Linked DNA regions of Homo sapiens. The protein of the gene in region 1 interacts with the protein of each later gene in a pairwise test. Each region holds a gene or a part of one and is shown on either strand. Other genes may lie near its edges.

Evidence for each region. Proteins that work in one complex are often made in the same cells at the same time.
Region 2: the proteins of ZBED1 (region 1) and FNDC11 interact in binary tests that used the Homo sapiens proteins (3 or more experiments, as listed by UniProt).

The regions. Positions count from the first base shown.
Region 1 is NC_000023.11:2,490,923-2,498,135, forward strand, and holds part of ZBED1 (E3 SUMO-protein ligase ZBED1), read right to left. Parts: intron 1-7,213.
Region 2 is NC_000020.11:63,550,058-63,557,158, forward strand, and holds FNDC11 (fibronectin type III domain-containing protein 11), read left to right. Parts: upstream 1-4,101; 5' UTR 4,102-4,149; exon of another isoform or gene 4,150-4,214; intron 4,215-4,285; exon of another isoform or gene 4,286-5,111; intron 5,112-5,117; exon of another isoform or gene 5,118-5,504; coding exon of another isoform or gene 5,505-5,509; exon of another isoform or gene 5,510-5,537; coding exon of another isoform or gene 5,538-5,606; coding exon 5,607-6,563; 3' UTR 6,564-6,638; downstream 6,639-7,101.

The DNA.
Region 1 (7,213 bases):
TGCAGAGTGGAGGAGGGAACCTAGCGCAGGAATACGCTCTTTCTTCCACGTTAATCCGACTGCAGCGATGCCGCACGTGTCAACATACAGGTTTGCGAGTGAGCACGGCATTTTTGCAGGGCTGTACCTGACAAGTGCCTTTAGTTTTTTTTTTTTTTTTTTTTTGAGACAGAGTTTCGCTCTGTCACCCAGGCTGCAGTGCAATGGCGTGATCTCAGCTCACTGCAACCTCCGCCTCCCGGGTTCAAGCGATCTTCCTGCCTCAGCTTCCTCAGTAGCTGGGATCACAGGCACCTGCCATCACGCCTGGCTAATTTTTGTATTTTTAGTAGAGACAGGGTTTCACCATGTTGGTCAGGCTGGTCTCGAACTCCTGACTTCAGGTGATCCACCCGCCTTGGCCTCCCAAAGTGCTGGGATGACAGGCGTGAGTCACCGCGCCCAGCCTGACAATGCCTCTGTCATCGCAGGGGCTTGTTGTTCCTGTCCTAAGAGTTTCCCAAGCACCTGCCACGTGGGAAAGCTGCGTAGATCTTTTCTGGGGATGAAGCCTACATAGAAGAATCCACAAGTGGCCAGGCAGACCCCCCACTGCCAACCATCACAGCAGGACTCTCTGAATGCCACCTGAGCTTCATTCACTGCATTAAAGAAGCCAAACAGGACCTCCATCTGACTAAAGCCAGCTTTCCTATGGCTAAGAGGCACTGCACACTCTTCTCAAACTTTATGGTTTAAAATGAAGCCATGTGGAACGTCACAGGTGCATCCGTGATCTGTAAGCACGTCTGAAGAAGCATGGATTTCTCAATCCCTGGAACTTCTCAAAATGCCCATTGTGTCCAGTCACACCTGTGGGCAGAAAGGCCCAACTGGGCAAATATCACACACCTGTGCAAACATCAGGCAGTCGGTGTGGAGGCTTAGATGACCCAGAAGCCAGTCCCCAGGGTTCCTGTTGAGGTTGAATGCTCACACATACAGGCCCTTCCAGCTGCCACTCAGGAGGCCACCTCTGTGACTGGGTTGCCCAAAATGACAGCTGGGCTTTGTTAAAAGGTGTAATTGTGTCTCCAAGTGTCCAGTACAGTGCTCAGGAGGGTAAATATCAAAATGCACCACCCAGGCACGTTCAGAGTGTTGGGATACAGTCAGTGCAAGGAGGCATATTTCAATGATGACTATAGTGGGTTGAAAAGCGTCCTCCCCTACCAAAGAAAATCTGTATCCACCTGGTACTTGTGTATGGGACCTTGTTTGGAAAAAGGGTCTTTGCAGATGTATTAATAATGAAGGTAAGGATCTTTAGATGAGATTATTCTCAATTGAGGTGGTCCTAAATGCAGTGACCAGTGTCCTTAATAGAAGACAGATGAGGAGACACGGACACACAGGAGAAGACCACATGGAGACAGAGGCCGAGACTGGAGTGATGCGGCCACAAACCCAGAACGCCTGGAGCCCCCAGGAGCTGGGAGAGGCAGGAAGGATCCTCCTCTAGAGCCTCCACAATGAACTGGATAAAATCATGGTGGATTGAACAGTGGCCCGCAGAAAGATCTGTCCACAGCCTAAAGCCCAGGATGTGGAATGAGATCTTACTTGGTTATTAGAAATTTTGTAGATCTCATGAGTTAAGGATCTGGAGATGAGATCATCCGGGATTTGAGTGAGCCCTAAATGCAGTGACAGATGTCCTTATAAAAGACAGAAGAGGAGACACAGACACAGAGAAGGCCACATGGAGACAGAGGCAGAGACTAGAGTGATGATGTGGCTGGCCTGAAGCCCAGGGACGCCAGGAGCCCCCAGGAGCTGGGAGAGGCAGGAAGCACCCTCCGCGTAAGCCTCCGGAGGGAGCGCAGCCCTGAGACACTTTGATTACAGACTTCTGGCCTCCAGAACTGGGAGAGAATAAGCTATGGTTTTAAGCCCTCCGGTTTCTGGTACTTTATTAAAGCAAGGTATTCTGAAGGTTAATTTTGCCCGAAATAATGAGTGGAGGTCTTAGAAAGGCCCCCCGTCTTCACGGGCAGTCGCGGCCTGCGTTGCTGGCTTTCCGTCAACGGTGCCCGCCCAGTGCTTTTTAGGGAGACGCCGCCACGTGCCAGGTGAGCTGGGCATTGCCAGAGCCCAGCAGTGCCACTTCCCAAGACTGGGGTGCAAGGAGGGGGGTCCTGTGGCCAATGCCAGCACCCTGGTTTGTTCTAAGGTGCTGAGAGAATGAATAACATGACCGGGACTTCCACAAAACGAGGAACCCCCAAACTGCATCTTCTGCAGCCGAGTTAGGGTGGGGCCCCTGGATTACACAGTCAACGGAGGGGGAAAAGAATCTCAAGAGGCCTCCTAAGTCCGACCTGAGTGACAGGACACAGCTGTATCAGATCCTCCATCATCATCATCATCATATTATTATTTGGCTGAAACAGGTTTTGGTAATTGGGAGGAAAAGGTTTACATTCCATTATTATTATTTGTGCTATTGGGCTGAAAGAGGTCCCAGTCCTCAAACAAAAGTTTAAATTCTATTTATTATTATTATTATCATTATTATTATTATTATGTGGCTGAAAGCGGTTCTGGAACCTGAAGGAAAGGTTTCAATTCCATTATTATTATTATTTTTATTATTATGAAGATTAGGCTGGAAGAGGTCCCAGTACCAGTAACAAAGGTTTATATTCTAATTATTATTGTTACGGTTGTTATTATTATTAGGCTGAAAAAGGTCTCAGTACCTGTAGCAAAGATTTTTATGCTGGCACCAGGCACAGCGGCTCACGCCTGTACTCTCAGCACTTTGGGAGGCCAAGGTGGGTGGATCATCTGAGGTCAGGAGTTTGAGACCACCCTGGACAACATGGTGAAACCCCTCCTCTACTAAAAATACAAAATTAGCCGGGCGTGGTAGTGGCACATGCCTGTAGTCCCAGCTACTCGGGAGGCTGAGGCACGAGAATCGTTTGAACCCGGGAAGCAGAGGTTGCAGTGAGCCGAGATGGCGCCATTGCACTGTAGCCTGGGCAACAAGCGCAAAACTCCGTCTCAAAGAAAGAAGAAAACAAAAAAAAAGATATATATGCTATTATTACTATTGTTTTTAGGCTGGAAGAGGTCCCGATACCTGGAAGAAAAGTTTGTACTCGGTTATTATTATCTGTCTGAAAGAGGTCCTGAAAGCTGGAGCAAACATCCATATTCTATTATTATTATTATTATTGTGATTGTTTGACTGAAAGAAGTCCCAGTGCCTGGGGCCAAGGTTTATATTCTATTATCATTGCTGTTATTATTATTTGGCTGAAACAGGTCCTGGTACCTGTAGCAAAGGCTTATATTATTACATTATTATTATTATTAGGCTGGAAGAGGTCTCGACACCTGGAACAAAAATTTTCATTCTATCATTATTATTATTATTAGGCTGAAAGAGGTTCTAGAACCTGGAGCAAAGGTTTTTATTCTATTATTATTACTTTTGTTATTAGGCTGAAAGAGGTCCCAGTAACAGAACAAAAGTTTATATTCTATTTTATTACTATTTGGCTGAGAAAGGTGCCAGGACCTGTAGTAAAGGTTTATATTCTATGATTATTATTAGGCTGAAAGAAGTCCGGGTACCTGGAACAAAAGTTTATATTTTATTATTATTATTTAGCTGAAAAAGGTTCTGGCACTTCAGTCAAAGGTTTATGTTCTATTATTATCATTATTATTATTATTTGGCTCACAGGTGTCCCAGTACCTGGACCAAAGGTCTGTTTTCTATTAATACTATTCTTATTATTACTATTTGGCTGAAAAAAGGTTCTGGTACCTAGAGCCAAGTTTTATATTCCACTATTATTATTTGGTTGAAAGAGGTCCCAGTACCTAGAAGAAAAGTTTATATTCTATTATCATTATAATTATTATTACTGTCATTATTGTTGGTCTGAAAGAGGTCCTGGTACTGTGAACAAAGGTTTATATTCTATTATTATTCTTATTTGGCTGAAAGAGCTCCCAGGACCTGGAGCAAAGGTTTATATTCTATCATTATTATCATTATTACTACTGTTATTATTATTACTGGGCTGAAAGAGGTCACAGTACCCTGAACAAAGGTTTATATTCTATTGTCATTATTATTATTATTGTTATTATTTGGCTGAAAGACGTTCCAGGAGATGAAGCAAAGGTTTATATTCTATCATTATTATCATTATTACTATTATTATTATTATTACTGGGCTGAAAGAAGTCACAGTACCCTGAACAAAGGTTTATATTCTATTATCATTAATATTATTATTATTATTTGGCTGAAAGACGTTCCAGGACGTGAAGCAAAGGTTTATATTTTATCATTATTATCATTATTCCTATTGTTGTTATTATTATTGGGCTGAAAGACGCCCCAGTACCATGAACAAAGGTTTATATTCTATTATTATTAATATTATTGTTATTATTTAGGTGAACAAAGGTTTCTATTCTATTATGATGATCATCATTTGGCTGAAACAGGTCTAGTACCTGGAGTGAAGTTTTGTACTAAGAGCCAAAATTCCCAAACCCCTAACCAAGTGACTCCTGGAAGGAGAAACAAGAAGCTCCCTCCCACGTCTCCTGCTGTCAGAATTCCATGGGATTCCCAGGTAAAGAACCGTCCACACAGTAGGTGGGTTCCACCTGAACCCACGTAACAGCCACAGCAGAGCTGACCTTCTGCAGTGAGTACCCTCCTTCCTCCTTCCTCCTCCCTTGCAGCGCTTCCGAGCACACAAGGCCACGAATAAAGGTTGCTGTAAACCAGCCTCTCACTGCCTCATTCTTCAAGACTGGTGCAGCATCCCCAGTGCGGGGGGAGGGGGGTTTGGGGGGGACACTCCCCAAAACGCTCTCAGGGGGCCGGCGATTTCACGTTTCCAATTGCACATCCATGAGAGGCCAGTGGATGTGCCTCACATGACTCTTACCAGAACGACACGTCGCAAGAGACCAGTGTGAAGAAGCAGAGGAAGGAGCCAGCCGCCATCCGTCCCTTTATGGATGAGACTGACAAAACCCTAAAACTCAGCCACTCTTCTCCCTAGGTTTTTGTTATTTTGGAAATGACAATCATTTTTCTTTTAAAAAACATACAGCACATGGCCAAAGGGTACCAAGTTTCTGTTCGACAGGAGGAATCCGTTTCAGTGACCTACTGCACAGCGTGGTGGCGATAGTTAATAGTGTATTACATATTTCAAAATAGCTAAAAGAGGTTTTTATTTTTGTTTTTGTTTTTTTGTTTTTTTGGTTTTTTTGAGACGGAGTCTCGCCCTGTTGCCCAGGCTTGAGTGCAGTGGCGCAATCTTGGCTGACTGCAACCTCCACCTCCCAGGTTCACACCATTCTCCTGCCTCAGCCTCCCAAGTAGCTGGGACTACAGGCGCACACTGCCACACCCAGCTAATTTTTTGTATTTTAGTAGAGATGGGGTTCCACTGTATTGCCCAGACTGGTCTCAAACTCCTGAGCTCAGGCAATCCACCCGCCTCAGCCTCCCAAAGTGCTGGGATTATAGGCATGAGCCACCGCACCCGGCCCGCCAATAGAGATTTTAAATGTCTTGCGTGCAGTGTATACTGCTTGGGTGATGGGTGCACCAGAATCTCACAAATCACCACTAAAAAACTTACTCATGGAATCAAACACCACCTGTTCCCCAATAACCTATGGAAATAAAAAACAAAAATAGCTAAAAGAGATTTTAAATGTTCCCACCGCAAAGGAAAAATAGCGGGTGATAGATATTAGTTTAATTATTCCACAATGCAAACATACAGCAAAGCATCACACTGTGCCCCATAAGTGTACACATTTATATATTTATATAAAAATATCAATTGTTTTTATTTACATCTAAATTATATAAATATAACTTATTTGTATTTTATATTTATAGAAAAGTATAAATTATTCTAAAAATATATATATTTAATAAAAATAAAATATAAAAACAATAAATATATTACATACATTTTTGTATGTAACATGTAATTGGCCTGTTACCATTACTTTTAAATAGATTGTTAAATATGTTTTAAATTTCTGTTTTAATGTCTAACAGGATGACTTATTGACTGTTATAATCCACAAAAACAAAAACTGTCTGGGGTCCTCATTTTTTTTGAAAGAGATTCTATGATCAAGGAATTGGAGGCCGGGGGCAGGGGCTCACCCCTGTAATCCCAGCAATTTGGGATGCCAAGGTGGACTATCACCTGAGGTCAGGAGTTTGAGACCAGCCTGACCAACATGGAGAAACCCCATCTCACTAAAAATACAAAATGAGCCAGGCATGGTGGCACATGCCTGTAATCCCAGCTACTCGGGAGGCTGAGGCAGGAGAATCGCTTGAACCCGGGAGGCAGAGGTTGTGGTGAGCTGAGATCACGCCATTGCACTCCAGCCTGGGAAACAAAAGCGAAACTTGGTCTCAAGAAAAAGAAGAAGAAGTTGGAAAACTGCTGTTTTTACTTCTACCTGATTTCTAATAGCCACTGTTCACTACTCATAAAACCAACAAGAATTAACTTTCCCTTTACAGGTTAAAAAAAAAATAGTTTGAAAAGTAGGACTTCTATAAATAGCTTTGTAAGTGGGCCAGTTGGCATATTTTTTGTAAATACTCACTCCTGTGGTACAGCATTTACGAATCCATTTTGCATCCCAGAAAGTGAAGGAATATTCTGTGGCCTATTATTTACAATAGAACTTTTAAGAAAAATTCTGTGGCAGTATTGGAACTGGACTTGACTACAGGTACCATCAATTTTCTCTCCTTTGCAAAACTCATTGATGTATCAGAGAAAATGTAATTTCTAAACAGATCACCCTGTTATTAATACCGGTGGGTAGAGACTTTCTTTACTCAATATGATCATTTTCAACAGATTTCAGGCCATATCAATGTTCAAGTTTTGATGCCATATTAGGATATTAAATGCACTGATTAAATCATCTATTTTAAAATCCAACCAACAGATACAACTTACTGAATGGGCCGCATGGATATAGTCTTAAGAACACAGAGACAGACCCTCTTATGGGAATTCTCAATTTGCTTCTAAACCCCCTCTGTAAAGGCATGACCAACATCTATGATTAATTTGTAATTATCTTGTTTTTCCATGATGAACTGTAAGAAGACACCATTTAGGAGTGGATTCCAGCCACAATT
Region 2 (7,101 bases), on another chromosome or scaffold:
CCCCGCATGCCCAGCTGCCCTGTCCCGCTGCCCTCCAAGTTGTGCCCGCCCGTCCACCCCTTCCTCACCTCACCCACCAGGCGCAACACAGCCCAGCATAGGGCCCCTGCCAGGTGTCGGTGTCAGCAGCCCCTTCCCTGCCTGCTGTGCCCCCCCCACATGACCTCACCTCCTCCCTCAGCCCTAACCGGGTGGGTGGCACAGAGGGGAGTGAGGAAAGGGGCCTGGGTACAGGATCAGTCTGGACGGGGTCAGGAGTCTGGGGCTTGGCCGGGTGAGGCGGCTCACTCCTGTAATACCAGCATCTGGGGAGGCCAAGCAGGAGGATCGCTTAAGCCCAAGGGTTCAAGACCAGCCTGGGCAACATAGTGAGACCCCCATCTCTATTTTTTTAAAAAAAGAAAAGGCTAGGCACGGTGGCTGACACCAGTAATCCCAGCACTTTGGGAGGCCAAGGCGGGTGCATCACCTGAGGTCAGGAGTTCAAGACCAGCCTGGGCAACATGGTGAAACCCCGTCTCCACTAAAATACAAAAGTTAGTCAGGCATGATGGCGGGCACCTGTAATCCCAGCTACTCGGGAGGCTGAGACGGGAGAATCACTTGAATCTGGGAGACAGTGGTTGCAGTGAGCTGAGATCGTCGCGCCACCGTACTCCAGCCTGGGCGGCTGAGCAAGACTCCATCTCAAAAAAATAAAAATGACCAGGGCTGGAATCCTGCTGTCAGACTCACTGTCCACATGACCTTGGGCATACAGTGCTGAACCTCCCTGTGCCTCAGTTTCCCCATCTGTAAGAGCACTGAGCTTACAATGGCAGTGAGGACACAGACCAGGGGGATGGGGTGCAGGGCCCTTCCTGGTGTTCAGATGGAGGCTTGTGGCAGGAGCTCTGCCACATCAGGCCACCCCCCATCCGGGTTTATGTGTCTGGAGGGCACAGCTCTGAGGGTCTCAGTGGTCAGCGTGCATTCTCTCCCCCAAGACTGGCCCCACTACCCCCAGGCTTCACCATCCTCAGGGCCCAGGGAAGAGAGCTTGTCCCCACCAGGGACAACAGATCCAAAGTGTTCACTGCCCGTGCCCTGGTGGCCACAAACAGGGTTGAGCAAGACTGAGCACAAACTGGCCCCTGGTGCCCAGCAGTGAACAGGAGTGACTGTTGACCCTGCACAGAGGGGACTATGCTGAGCGCAAGAAGCCAGTCCCAAGGCTGCATACTGAAAGCCTGCACTGATAGGACATTCTTGAAATGACCAGACAGAGCCGGAGAGATGAGTGGTTGCAGGGCTAGGGAGAGGTGGGAGGGAGCAGCGTGGCTGTAAAGAACATGTCAGGGTCCCGTGGGGGTGGCACTGCCTTGCGTCTGTATCGACGTCAAGGTCCTGGCGTGATTCTGCACTGCAGTCCTGCAAGATGCTACCACTGGGGATGCTGGATAGAGGGTAACGGGACCTCTGTGTTACTTCTTACAACTGCAGATGAATCTATACTTATCTTAAAAGTAAAAGTTTAACTTTATTATTATTATTATTATTTTCGAGACAGGCCTCTGTCTTATTGCACCCAGGCTGGAGTGCAGTGGCACAATCTCGGCTCACTGCAACCTCCACCTCCTGGGTTCAAGCGATTCTCCTGCCTCAGCCTCCTGAGTAGCTGGGACTACAGGCGCCCACCACCACGTCCAGCTAATTTTTTTTTTTTTTTTGAGACAGAGTCTCGCTCTGTCGCCCAGGCTGGAGTGCAGTGGCGTGATCTCGGCTCACTGCAAGCTCCACCTTCCAGGTTCACGCCATTCTCCTGCCTCAGTCTCCCGAGTAGCTGGGACTACAGGCGCCTGCCACCACTCCCAGCTAGTGTTTTGTATTTTTAGTAGAGACGGGGTTTCACCATGGTCTCGATCACGTCCAGCTAATTTTTGTATTGTTAGTAGAGACTGGGTCTTACTATGTTGGCCAGGCTGGTCTTGAACTCCTGACCTCAGGTGATCTGCTTGCCTCAGCCTCCCGAAGTGCTGGGATTATAGGCGTGAGCCACTGCGCCCAGCCATTATTATTCTTTTTAGAGACACAGGGTCTCCCTCTGTCACCCAGGCTGGAGTGCAGTGGCACCATCTTGGCTCACTGCAGCCTCATCCTCCCAGGCTCAGGTGATCCTCCGGCCTCAGCTTTCCAAGTAGCTGAGACCACAGGTGCACACCACCACACCCAGCTAATTTTTCAAATTATTTGTAGAGACAGGGGTCTCCCTGTGTTGCCGAGGCTGGTCTCAAACTTCTGGCCTCAAGGGATCCTCTCACCTTGGCCTCTCAAAGTGCTGAGGTTATGGGCCTGCGCCACCGAGCCTGGCCAAAAGTTTAACTTTAAAAAATTAGATTAGAAATCAGAAATTGAAAGAAAGGGGGTAGGGTGGAGCCCAGGAGAGGGGAGACATCCAGGACCTGCCTGGCCCCAAAAGAGAAGGGGAGGCTGCTCTGCCCCCACCCCGCTTCTCCGTCAGTGGGCTGCAGGGCCGGGGGTAAGGGGTCTAACTCCTACTGCTTCCCAACCCTCCGCGTCAGACAGCACCCCCTTCTCCAAACAACCCCGGCTTTGTCCCCTGGAGCCCTAAATAACAATAACAATAGCTGGCATTTATTGAGTTCCAGCCCAGGCAGGGAGGGCAGGGCAGAAACAGCACCCAACAGGACTGGGTGCAAGGCTCACACCTGTAATCCGGAAGGATCAGAAAGACCCAGGTGGGAGGATCACTTGAGCCCCGGGGGTGAAGACTGCCGCATGGGTGACAGAGCAAGACGCTATCTCAAAAAAAAAACCACCCACATCCACCCACTTCCTGCCAGGCCTAACCCCTGGGGCCTCCATGCACCAAGGGAAAGCTCTTCCAGGGTGGGGTCACCGGGAGGAGGGGGGAGGCTCAAGTTACAGAACAGCCTGGTAGGGGCTCAAAGACGCCCATCCTGGAAGAGGCCCCAGCACTGACCTCCGTGGGGGTGGAGATGAGGAGGATGGAAAGGGTGTCTTCCTCCAGCATCTTCCTGAAGGTGAAGGAGGGGCACCTTGGGGTGTCTAAGATTGTGACCCCAGGAGACCCCCAGCTAGCTGGGGTGTGCTGTGGGGGAACGGGGGGATCCCAGAGGCCCTGAGCCCAACTGAACAGATACAGACGGGACCAGATGGCCTCAGAGCTCCCCTGCGGGGCTCCCTGGAGCTATGGAGACCCCATTTATCCAGAGTCAGGTCGGTGCCTGAGCTTGGGCAGCCCCAGGTGGAAGGAGCCCATGGTGGGAGGAGCCTGTAGTGGGAGGAGCCTGTAGTGGGAGGAGCCTATGATGGGAGGGGCCGTGGTGGGGGGAGCCCGCGGTGGGAGGAGCCTGCGCTGGGAGGAGCCTGTGGTGGGAAGACCCTGTGGTGGGAGGGGCCGTAGTAGGGGAGCCCGCGGTGGGAGGAGCCTGCTCTGGGAGGAGCCTGTGGTGGGAGGGGCCGTGGTGGGGGGAGCCCGCGGTGGGAGGAGCCTATGATGGGAGGGGCCGTTGCGGGGGAGGGGGGAGCCCATGGTGGGAGGAGCCTGTGGTTGAGGAGCCTGCGGTGGGGGGAGCCTGCGGTGGGAGGAGCCTGTAATGGGTGGCATCTGTAATGGGCGGGGCCTTGCTGGGCAGAGCCCGCGGCGGGGGAAGCCGCCCCTCTCCTCTGTCCAGGCGCTGGGTGGTCCATCCGCCTGGTCACCGGCCACTGCCTCTCTCCCAAATTCCTCCGAGGGATTCCCGAGGAGTGCGCTCGGACTGGGGGGTTGAGCAGGAACTCCCTCCCAGTCACCCGAGGCTCCTGCGCCCCGCCCGAAGCCGGGGGTGCGTGGGGAGTGGTGCGCCCGCGGAAGGGCTCCGGGACGGGAACCCCCCTTGGAGCCTGGCTCTTGGACCAGCCACCCGCCGTGGCCCCTCAGTCGGGGACGCGGGCCCCCAGAAGTCTGGGGCTCTCCAGGAAGCGAAGCGGATGGAAGATTACTCGGCTCGGGGTCCCGGGTCCCCACCCCCGCCCCGCCCCCGGGCCGCAGCGTCACAAAGGCCGCTGGTCCCCAGGGCAACCCGCGGAGTGCGGAGGGAGGCTGGGCTCTGGGAAGTCCGCGCGCGGCTCCGCTTCAGAGGCAGGGCAAGTGGGCGCGGTCCTGGGGCGGCGGCGGGGGCCGGGAGAGGAGGGCTGGGGGTCTCGAGAAGGTAAGGGGCAGGCAGAGCGGCCGGGGAGGTGGGCCCGGGCCAGGGGAGCCAAGGGGAGTGTGGTGGAGGGGGTAGAGTGCGGGCACCTGGTGGTCTCAGGGAAGCGGGCCTGGGACCGGGGCGTGTAGGAAGCAGCGAGGGGCTCAGAACCACCTTTCCGGGTTCACGACCAGCCTCTCTGGGTGTTCCACCTGGGCAGCTGCTGGAGACTAGAAAACATCCCTCACACGTCACAGAGGCACGGTTTCCCTCCAGCGGTGAAATCCGCCCCAGCCTCCAGCAAGAGCAGGGCTTAGGCCTGGGGTCCTGGGGTCCTGCTCTCAGCTGGCACCTCACCCCAGACACACTCCCTGCTGCCCCCAGGGGCCTGTTCTCGAGGGATTCCCGAGGAGTGCGCTCGTGAAGTCATATCTGCCTCACGCCCAAAAGGGCAACCCTTCCCGGGCAGATATGACTTCACCACGTACCTGTGTGGCCCTGGGGAACTCAGCAACTGCTTAGCTCTCATTTGTGGGTCGTCCAAGGCCCAAGTGGCTGTGACAACCTGAGATCTCCAGGGTTGCTGGGAGCCGGGGCAGCAACCAGGGGTGCGGCTTGCTCTCCAGGGAGCTGCGGCAGAGCCTGGGGCCACAGCTGCACTCAGCCGGTGCACCCACGGACAGAGGGTCAGACTCGGCTCAGCACTGGGCTCAAGCCCTGGATGAGAACAAGAACCAAGCTTCTTAGCCTCAGGCTCCATCTGGGAAATGGAGTGTCACTTGTGGAGTCCATGAGCTCACCAGGGACAGGATCCCGGGTCCACAGCGAGGGCCCACAGCGTGGGAGGAGGGCTGCTCCTCCGGGCCCAGGCCTGGGCGCCCTCCTCCCATGCTGACCAGCCAGCTGGCCTCGTCTTTGGTGAGGCCTGTCTCTGTGCCCTACAACTGCGGTGAGGCGTGGAGCGTCCCCAGGGAGAACCGGAGCGGGAGGATGGCCCGCGAATGTCCCCGAGGGGGATCCTGTGCTGCTTAGGACCACGCCGTCCCCTCTCCACGGCCCCGAGGGGTGCCAGCAACCCCTTTCAGCAGCAGGGTTAGGAACTGGGGCCCTTGCAAGGCCACAGGTCAGGCGGTTCTGGCCAGAAGTCCGCAGTCCTAGTTCTTCCCTGTCCTGTCCCACAGGCCACTGGTTGTCAGTAGAGGTTTTTGCCCCTCAGTATAAACTGTGTCCAGATCTGTAGGCTGCCCATCCAGCCCTCCAGGCAGCCTCTTCCCATCGAGTTGTGCCCCCGAAGAAGGACAGAGGTCCAGCATGGGGTCAGTGGGCTGAATCCATCCCCCGAACATGCCACAGCCCAGGGGAGGCCAGCCTGCCTGGCAGCTGACACCCAGCCCTCCCCCCAGCTCCCGGATAATGAGCACCCATGTGGCAGGCCTGGGCCTGGACAAGATGAAGCTGGGCAATCCCCAGTCCTTCCTGGACCAGGAGGAGGCAGATGACCAGCAGCTGCTGGAACCAGAGGCGTGGAAGACCTACACCGAGCGCCGCAATGCCCTGCGTGAGTTCCTGACCTCGGACCTGAGTCCGCACCTGCTCAAGCGCCACCACGCCCGCATGCAGCTGCTGCGTAAGTGCTCCTACTACATCGAGGTCCTGCCCAAGCACCTGGCCCTGGGCGACCAGAACCCGCTGGTGCTGCCTAGCGCCTTGTTCCAGCTCATCGACCCCTGGAAGTTCCAGCGCATGAAGAAGGTGGGCACAGCTCAGACCAAGATCCAGCTCCTGCTGCTCGGGGACCTGTTGGAACAGCTCGACCATGGCCGTGCTGAGCTGGATGCCCTGCTCCGGTCGCCAGACCCACGGCCCTTCCTGGCCGACTGGGCGCTGGTGGAGCGGCGGCTGGCGGACGTGTCGGCCGTCATGGACAGCTTCCTGACCATGATGGTGCCGGGGCGGCTACACGTCAAGCACCGCCTGGTGTCTGATGTCAGTGCCACCAAGATCCCGCACATCTGGCTCATGCTGAGCACCAAGATGCCTGTCGTGTTTGACCGAAAGGCGTCGGCGGCTCACCAGGACTGGGCCCGGCTGCGCTGGTTCGTCACCATCCAGCCAGCCACATCGGAGCAGTATGAGTTGCGCTTCAGGCTGCTGGACCCGCGGACACAGCAGGAGTGCGCCCAGTGTGGCGTCATCCCCGTGGCTGCCTGCACCTTCGACGTCCGAAACCTGCTGCCCAACCGATCCTATAAGTTCACCATCAAGAGGGCCGAGACCTCCACGCTGGTGTACGAGCCCTGGAGGGACAGCCTCACCCTGCACACCAAGCCGGAGCCCCTGGAGGGGCCCGCCCTCAGCCACTCTGTCTGAGAGATGATTTTCTAATATTTATCCACTAATAAAGAAGAGTGTAAATGCACATATGGAATTAAAGAAGCAAACCTATTTATGTTTTAAAGGCAGCAGCCACCAGTGTTTTTCCTGGCTCAAAACATGCCAAGCCCCAGGCCTTCTGCTCCTGCTCTTTCCCAGGGGGAGCCACAGGCCGGACCTCCCAAGACAGCTGAGCCTGGAGCAAGAAGTACCAGCCCCTGACACCTACGGGTCCAACGACGACGACAAAAGCTGCTCCACGGGGCCTCTGCGGTCCTAGCCCCCGCCCCTCCTCACCACCCCCATCACCGTGACCGGGCTCCGGCCTTCCTTACCCACCTCCCTGGCTTGTGGGGCTCCCTCAGGGAATGACACTCCTAGGCCGTGATGCCTCCCACCATCCCCTGCCCAGCCTCGAGTGCTCATCAGCACGCCCGCCCGAGGAGGCAGCAGCACCACCGGGGATCCCTGGCTGTGAGCAGCTCAGCCGTGCCCCTCCATGCCCCGCCCCACCTTTTGTTCCTCAAGGGCCTTC